Homo sapiens: one gene and its partner. The protein of the gene in region 1 interacts with the protein of each later gene in a pairwise test. Each region holds a gene or a part of one and is shown on either strand. Other genes may lie near its edges.

What was found. Proteins that work in one complex are often made in the same cells at the same time.
Region 2: the proteins of ACKR2 (region 1) and SACM1L interact in a two-hybrid assay, tested with the Homo sapiens proteins (one large-scale study listed by BioGRID and IntAct).

The regions. Positions count from the first base shown.
Region 1 is NC_000003.12:42,808,070-42,812,244, forward strand, and holds the start of ACKR2 (atypical chemokine receptor 2), read left to right. Parts: upstream 1-1,375; 5' UTR 1,376-1,463; intron 1,464-4,175.
Region 2 is NC_000003.12:45,695,166-45,700,404, forward strand, and holds part of SACM1L (phosphatidylinositol-3-phosphatase SAC1), read left to right. Parts: intron 1-5,239.

The sequences.
Region 1 (4,175 bases):
CCTGTGACTTAGAATGCCTAACTGTCTGGGAATGTAGCCCAGTAGGTCTCAGCCTTATCTTACCTAGCCCCTATTCAAGATGGAGTTGCTCTGGTTCAATCATCTCTGATGATTGATTGGTATAAAGGTCAAATAGCTAGTAAGTAATAGAGGTAGAGGACTGTAAACTAGGAATTTTGATTCCGCTATATTTTAGGAATATAGTATCGCTCAACAGCAAGTAATTTTTAAGACATAGAAAGGAAATACATTTTTATATATAAGCTGGACTCTATTCATAATATTAAAAAATAAGGATTTAGACAAATTATAGGATGACAGATCCACATAGATAATTTAAGGAAGTTAGATATGCACTCTATGGCTACAACTGTGTGGAAGATGCACATTTGTCCCCCAAAATCTCTTTATTGAGGCTACTGGTATACACTACTTGGTAGAATTGTCATTAGTCTGACCCAGTTTGAATGACGGTTGAATTTAGGAGAAAAAAGTCCCATCTTTCGACAAAAGTGTACCAGCCCTGTCAGTTTAAGGGAGAAAACATAAACAGAGGCAGTGTAGGGGTGGAAAGGGGATGATCCCTTTCTTTCCCATCATAAGCGTTACAGCTAACACTCCTATAACAAAAGACAGGTTAACAAGAGAAAATTACTAGCCTGGACAACATGGCAAAACCCCGTCTCTACAGAAAATACAAAAATTTGCTGGGTGTGATGGTGTGCCTCTGTAGTCCCAGCTACTCAGGAGGCTGAGGTGAGCAGATCACTTGAGCCTGGGAGGTCAAGGCTGCAGTGAGCCAAGATTGTGCCACTGCACTCAGCCTAGGCCATAGAGTGAGACCCTGTCTCAAAAAAGAAAAGATAAAAACAAAACAAAAACAAGAGAAAAACATTATAAATGTACTGTATTTGATCAAGGTTTGTTTTGTTTGTTTGTTTTTGAGACAGAGTCTTGCTCTGTCGCCAGGCTGGAGTGGAGTAGCGTGATCTTGTCTCACTACAACCTCCGCCTTCCGGGTTCAAGCAATTCTCCTGCCTCAGCCTCTCAAGTACCTGGGACTACAGGTGTGTGCCACCACACCTGGCTAATTTGTTGTATTTTAGTAGAGATGGGGTTTCACCACGTTGGCCAGGATGGTCTTGATCTCCTGACCTCATGATCTGCCTTCCTCAGCCTCCTATTGATCAAAGTTTTACATGATGCAGGAGCCTTCAGAGTGAAGACCCAAAGATACAGGTGACTCTGTCTCATTATATGCTTAGGTTTGATGAAACAGGGACAGTCGTGTAGAAATGTGATTGGACAACAAAGGATATGAGCTAATGGTAATAGAAAACCTAGCAAGACCTGTCTGTTCAGATTCTTGAACTTTCTTTCGATTGTAGCATTTCTCCTTTCAGGATACAGTACGGGATCCTTTCTGGAATGGAGGTCTTATGAGCTGCTATTGAACACGGCAGGTGAGAGAATTTCTTTATGGCCAATTCTTAGACAAAAAGTAGGGGAAGCGGTTGGGCACAGTGGCTCACGCCTGTAATCCTAGCACTTTGGGAGGCCAAGGCGGGTGGATCACGAGCTCAGGAGTTTGAGACCAGCCTGACCAACATGGTGATACCCCATCTCTACTAAAAATACAAAAATTAGCCAGGCGTGGTGGCGTGCACCTGTAATCTCAGCTACTCAGGAGGCTAAGGCAGGAGAATTGTGTGAACCTGGGAGGCAGAGGTTGCAGTGACCCGAGATCGCGCCACTGTACTCCAGCCTGGGCAACAAAGCTAGACTCCGTCTCAAAAAAAAAAAAAAAGTTGGGGAAGCTTAGAGGTTCTGGTTTCTGTAATCAGCCTTGGGGAAGAGGAATTCTATTTTCTATGACTTGCTTCAGGAGAGAATGAGGGTATGACAGATAGACAGGAGGGTAAGACAGGTTGGTTAGAAACTTTGCTTCTGAGGCTGCTTCTGAGGCCTTCACTTTGGGGTATCATTTTCTGAGCCCCAACAGCAGGAAAGAATAAATAATAGGAAATTAGAAAACAGTATTGACATAGATATTTCCTGAATTCTAAAGTGATTCATTGTTTAAAAAATAACATTTTATTGGAATTAATTGCAGAATATCTTTCAGTCTGTTGGTAATGCGATTAAGTTGCAGAATATCTTTCAATCTGTTGGTAATGTGATTGGAATGATGAGTTAGGAGTCAACTAACCATTTCAAACAAATTAACTTTTTGTTGAAATTGTTTAAAAAGACTGGGTGTATTGATAAACTGATGTGGGATATGATAAGATTTCTCTTCAAATAATCTGATCAATCTTTTATTCTTTAATTCATAGTACCCCCCCCCAATTTTTCTCCTTTTTCGCCTTTTTTCCTCTTTGCCTTTGTTAAATGCCCAGGCACGCCACAATACCACGTTTTATCAATACCAACTTACATTCCTTTCCTTATTAAAAAAAAGACTAACTTTCTAGCTCATTACAAACACCCTTTCCCCTTTCCCTCCACTTTTTCTTTTACATGCTCACCCTATCTAAAAAAAATCGAATGTTTAGCCAACCAAAATTAGTTTAAATTGTACGACCCGACCACTACCAATAAAAAAAGAATACAAAGGCAAGACTTGCGTCAAAAATAAAGGCCCTCGTGCCCCTTTGTTCAAGTGCGCTCTCATGGCAACTGGCCGAAGAGACACCCCTCTGCGCAAAAGTAAAATTGCTTCATTAAAAATCCTTTGTTCGAGTGTTCAATTTCCTTAAAATTGTAAGGGTGATTCCTAACACCGACTTCATTTCCTCATTCCTTTTTTGAGATAGAGTCTCGCTCTGTTGCCCAGGCTGGAATGCAGTGGTGCAACCTTGGCTCACTGCAGCCTCCACTTCCCAGGCTCAAGCGATTCTCATGTGAGTAGCCGGGATTACAGGCATCTGCCACCACACCCGGCTAACTTTTGTATATTTAGTAGAGATGGGGTTTCACCATGTTGGCCAGGCTGGTCTTGAACTCCTGACCTGAAGTGATCTGCCCACCTCAGCCTCCCAAAGTGCCTGGATTACAGGTGTGAGCCACAGTGGCAGGCCCTCATTTCCTCATTGTTTTGAAACAAGGCACATACATTTTCTGTAGGGAAAAGAAAGATCAGACTGTTACTGTGTCTATGTAGAAAAGGAAGACATAAGAAACTCCATTTTGATCTGTACTAAGAAAAATTGTTTTGCCTTGAGATGCTGTTAATCTATAACTTTAGCCCCAACCCTGTGCTCACAGAAACATGTGCTGTATGGAATCAAGGTTTAAGGGATCTAGGGCTGTGCAGGGTGTGCCTTGTTAACAATATGTTTACAGGCTGTATGCTTGGTAAAAGTCATCGCCATTCTCCATTCTCGATTAACCAGGGGCATAACGAACTGCGGAAAGCCGCAGGGACCTCTGCCCAAGAAAGCCTGGGTATTGTCCAAGGTTTCCCCCAACTGACACAGCCTGAGATATGGCCTTGTGGGAAGGGAAAGACCCAGCCGTCCTCCCCAGCCTGTCACCCGTAAAGGGTCTGTGCTGAGGAGGATTAGTAAAAGAGGAAGGTCTCTTGCGGTTGAGATAAGAGGAAGGCCTCCATCTCCTGCATGTCCCTGGGAATGGAATGTCTCGGTGTAAAACCCGATCGTAAATTCCTCCTATTCTGAGGTAGGAGAAAACCGCCCTGTGGCTGGAGGCGAGATATGCTGGCAGCAATGCTGCTCTGTTACTCTTTGCTACACTGAGATGTTTGGGTGGAGAGAAGCAAAAATCTGGCCTACGTGCACATCCGGGCACAGTACCTTCCCTTAAACTTATTTGTGACACAGATTCCTTTGCTCACATGTTTTCCTGCTGACCTTCTCCCCATTATCACCCTGTTCTCCTGCCGCATTCCCCTAGCCGAGATAGTGAAAATAGTAATCAATAAATGCTGAAGGAACTCAGAGACCGGGGCCTGTGCAGGTCCTCCATATGCTGAGCGCCGGTCCCCTGGGACCACTGTTCTTTCTCTATACTTTGTCTCTGTGTCTTATTCCTTTTCTCAGTCTCTCGTTCCACCTGACGAGGAATACCCAGAGGTGTGGAGGGGCTGGCCCCCTTCAGTTTTCTTTCCCTCAGGGTTGTATAGTGCATAACGGCCCTTGTTTGGCTAGGAGTAT
Region 2 (5,239 bases), 2.9 Mb from region 1:
AGTTGTTTTCTTTTTGCTCACCAAACCTAGTAAAGTGTTGTGCCTCTGTCTTTTCAACCAGAGATGTATTAAATTTGATCATTAAGACCTTGATTTAATTCTTTTTTTTTTTTGAGATGGGGTCTCACTCTGTTGCCCAGGCTGGAGTGCAGTGGCGCAGTCTCGGCTCACCACAACCACCACCTCCCAGGTTCAAGTGATTCTTGTGCCTCAGCCTCCCTTGTAGCTGGGACTACAGGCATGCACCACCAGGCCCGGCTAATTTTTGTATTGTTAGTAGAGACAGAGTTTCACCATGTTGGCCAGGCTGGTCTTGATCTCCTGACCTCAAGTGATCCACCTGCCTCGGCCTCCCAAAGTGTTGGGATTACAGGCATGAGCCACTGCACCCAGCCAAATTCTTTACGTAAGATTTTTGAGGGAATATGTTCTTGCTACAGTTTTATGACATATCACTGTGGCTCCTATGCAAAATAGTGGTTTCATTATTTTTAAAAATTGTGGTAAAATAAAACATTAAATTTACCATCTCAACCATTTTTAAGTATACAGTTCAGGGGCAATAAGCACATTCATGTTGTACAACCGTTATCACCATCCATCACCAGAACCGTTTTCATCTTGCAAAAATAAACTCTGTACCCATTAAACAACTCCCCATTTCTGTATCCTCCCAGCCCCTGGCAACCACCGTTCTACTTTCTGTCTCTATAAATTTGACTTCTCTAGATGCCTCATGAAGTGGCAGTATTTGTCCTTTTATGACTGGTTTATTTCACTTAGCATAATGTCCTTAAGGTTCATCCATTGTGTAGCATGTGTCAGAATTTCCTTTTTTTTTTTTTTTTTTGAGATGGAGTCTCGCTCTGTTGCCTATGCTGGAGTACAGTGGTGCGATCTCGGCCCACTGCAACCTCTGCCTCCTGGGTTCAAGCAATTCTCCTGCCTTAGCCTCCTAAGTAGCTGGGATTTCAGGTGCCTGCCACCACGCCCAGCTACTGTTTTGTATTTTTAGTAGAGACAAGGTTTCACTGCATTTGCCAGGATGGTCTCCATCTCCTGACCTCGTGATCCGCCTGCCTCGTCCTCCCTGAGTGTTGGGATTCCAGGCCTGAGCCACTGTGCCTGGCCCAGAATTTCCTTTCTAAGGCTGAATAATATTCCATTATATGTATGTACCACATTTCGTTTGTTCATTTGTTAATAGACACATAGGTGGCTTCCACCTTTTTGGCTATTGTGAGTAATGCCAGTATGAATGTGAGTATACAAATACCTTTTTGAAACCCTACTTTCAGTTATTTTGAGTATATACCCGGAAGTGGAATTGTTGGGTCATATGGGAATTCTATTTTTAATTTTTAATGGGCCACCATACTGTTTTCCCATAGTGGCTGCACCGTTTTACATTCCCACCCACAAAGCACCAGGATTCCAGTGTCTCCGCATCCTAGCCAACACTCGTTATTTTCTATCCTGGGTTTGTTTTTTTTTTCCTTCTAGATAATAGCCATTTTAATGGGTATGAGGTTGGTAAGTAGTAATGTTTTTGTAGTGGGCCAGTTTTACTCATTGATTTGACAGGATTTTAAAGAGATCAGTTGTCTGAAATAAGACGTGAATGTTACATGAGAGATAAATGTTTTCAGACACTAGAAAATCGCAATGCCAACACTGAAAGAAAATAAAAATATTTGATGTTAATATTATAATTAAAGATATTGCTTTTCTTAAAATTTAACAAGACTAATTTTTTAAAAAACACTCTTAAGAGCTGTTGAATCCCAGGTGACTATAAGATTAAATGCATTTGTATTAAGTGTAATACCAGAACTGCCTTTGTTGCATTTAGCTTTTAGTCCCAGTTCCACTTCTGGGATACTCAAAATAATTAAAAGTAAGGTCTCAAAGAGGGATTTGTATACCCCTGTTCATAGCAGCATTATTCACAACAGTCAAAAAGGAGGAAGCAACCTAAGTGTTGATTCTTTCTTTTTTTTTTATTTCAACATTTTTTGTAGAGATGAGATCTCGCTGTGTTGACCAGGCTGGTCTCAAACTCCTGGCCTCAAGATCCTCCTGCTTTGTTTTTCTTTTCTTTTCCTTTTTTTTTTTTTTTTTTTTTTTTTAAGACAGGCTCTTGCTCTGTTGCCCAGGCTGGAGTGTAGTGGTGCGATCTTGGCTCAGAGCAGCCTCTGCCTCCCAGGTTGAAGTGATCCTCCGACCTCAGCCTCCTGAATAGCTGAGGCCACAGGTGCATACCACCACACCTGGCTAATTTTTGCATTTTTTGTAGAAACGGGGTTTTGCCATGTTGCCCAGGCTGGTCTCAAACTCCTGGGCTCAAGCAGTCCTCCTGCCTCAGCCTCCCAAAGTGCTAGGATTACAGGCATGAGCACTGTATCCAACCACTTTTTCTTTTTTATGCCATGCTTGGACAGTAATCCTTAAAAGCAAAATGACGAACTGAATGAAGGTAGTCAAAATAGGAGCAATTATTATACAAGTATTATGCTATTTTGATATATCTTCCATAGTATGTGTCTTATTAATGGGAACCAGAACTCTGGGTAGGTATGGGATCCCCTTGTCTTGACAGATATTTGGTAGGATTCTTGTTCAGTTAGAGTTAATAGTGAATTGGAGGCTAATCACCTCACCAGATAGTTTATATAGGACCAGAACCCTTTTTAGTATACAGTATTACTTTGAACCTTAGAGATCTGTTATCAACAGTATAGATAATGACCAAATAATCTTCTTGGATCGAATCTTGTCTTCCGAAATCCATTTCATAAAATAAGTAATATGATAGCTTGTTTGGTAAAGATTTAAACACAAAAATAGCAATAAAACAATACACACCAGGAAAAATTATACCACTGAATGTTTACTTAATTGTTTTTGACGGTTTAAATGCTAGAGAGTTAAAGTTAATTTCACTGGCTTTTGAAATGAAGCCCAGGAAGCATAAAACATAGAATAAAATTTATTACATAAAACAATTATGCTTCAGATCAGTATTAAGACCAATACAAAAGTGGTGGGAAATGAGAGGAAGAGAACAGTAAGGGCATATATGTAGGTGCCGTGAGTTAGGATGATACCTGCTGTTATGGTTAACAGAATTGTGAGTCATTACTTCTAATGAGCATCCCTAGAAATGTTGATTCCCTGGCAGTCACTGTTCACATTTTCATTGCTCCAATTCTTAAGCCTAGAGATACCACTTTCAGTGACATTATCAGAATAGCCTGATGGCAGCATCAGCAATTTAGATTCCAACAGCATCTCTCAGAGAGAGAAGATCAAGCAAAGGCCTCAGGACTTTTGAGCGAGACATCTCTACCTTGATCCATAATTACTCTTATTTGTATACTTTGTTATAATACTTTTTTTTTTGAGACAAAGTCTCGCTCTTGTGCCCCAGGCTGGAGTGCGATGGCGCAATCTCTGCTCACTGCAACCTCCGCCTCCCAGGTTCAAGCGATTCTCCTGCCTCAGCCTCCTGAGTAGCTGGGATTACAGGCGCCTGCCACCATGCCTGGCTAATTTTTGTATTTTTAGTAGAGATAGGGTTTCACCATGTTGGCCAGGCTGGTCTTGACTGAACTCCTAACTTCACGGAGTCTTGCTCTGTCACCAGCCTAGAGTGCAGTGGCGTGATCTCAGCTCACTGCAACCTCCACCTCCTGGGTTCAAGCAAGCGATTCCCCTGTCTCAGCCTCCCGAGTAGCTGGGACTACAGGCACGTGCCACCGCACCCAGCTAATTTTTTTGTTTGTATTTTAGTAGAGACGGGTTTCACCATGTTGGCCAGGATGGTCTCGATCTCCTGACCTTGTGATCCACCCGCCTCGGCCTCCCAAAGTGCTGGGATTTTGCATGAGCCTCTGCGCCTGGCCTGTAATACAGTTTTTAAATCTTATTTTTATTTCAATCTTATGTATACGGTTTAAAAGTAAGTAGTATACAAAGCTTATAATAACAGAGGCATCTACTTTTTTAAGCAACTTCTGGTATTTTACTCCATATCTAGCGCACCAGCATGGCACATGTATACATATGTAACTAACCTGCACAATGTGCACATGTACCCTAAAACTTAAAGTATAATTAAAATAAATAAATAAATAAAAAAATAATAGTAGCAGTAATGGTAAAAATAAAAAAATAAAAAAATGCTCATATTAGGCTGGGCTCTGGTTTATGTAGCTGTGGTTCAAATGAAGCCTCATGGTGTATCATAATTACATTTCTTTATAAAAATGTTTTGTTTTTATAAATTTATATAAATTTTATAAAATTATAAATTAAATGTTTTTAATTTCCTAGAATTAAAAAGTGCCTTGGTTCTTGTTATTTGCTTGACGTTTTTTTGAGACTGAGTCTCACTCTGTCGCCCAGGCTGGAATGCAATGGCATGATCTTGGCTCACTGCCACCTCCATCTCCTGGGTTCAGGCAATTCTCCTGCCTTAGCCTTAGCGGGGATTACAGGCATGCGCCACCACACCTGGCTAATTTTTGTATTTTTAGTAGAGACAGGGTTTCACTGTGTCGGCCAGGCTGGACTCAAACTTCTCACCTCAAACGATCTGCCCGCTTCCACCTCCTAAAGTGCTGGGATTACAGGTGTGAGCCACCGCGCCCAGCCGAGAAAAACTTTTAATTGCTTATAATGGAGATAGTTTTTTTTCTGTGTGTGCGTTTGACTTTTGTGCTCTTATAAACAGCTGATTTTATAATAAATACTTTATTGCTGACTGAAATGTACCTATTAAGTTGTACCTCCAAAGTTGTATGTGGAAACAAGTGTGACTTTTCAGTTCATTGATTTTTGTCCAAATAATTTTCATTTTAAAGGTCTTACAGGTGAGGAGAGTTTAAATGCATTTATGTAAATACAGGTGGTCAGAGTGTAGGAAGGGTGAGCTGTCGAGGGCAAGCAATATGCATTTCTCTGTTGGCTGTTTATCTAGATGCAAGCCTTGTGTTTTTGTGCCTAATATAAAAAAGTGGAGGAATTCGATTTCTGAGCTTGGTGAATAATAATCTTTTTATGTTAAAAATAGCATTAGTTATTGAACAGGTAACACACCCTTTGTCTGGAGAAATAAATTATGGCAACTGTCCCCCAAAATACAGCTGTGAACTTAAAAGATGTAGACCTCTGAGTATTATGAAGAAAATGGTTGTAATAAAGCCCATGGACTTCACTCTGTGGTCAAAACTGTGTC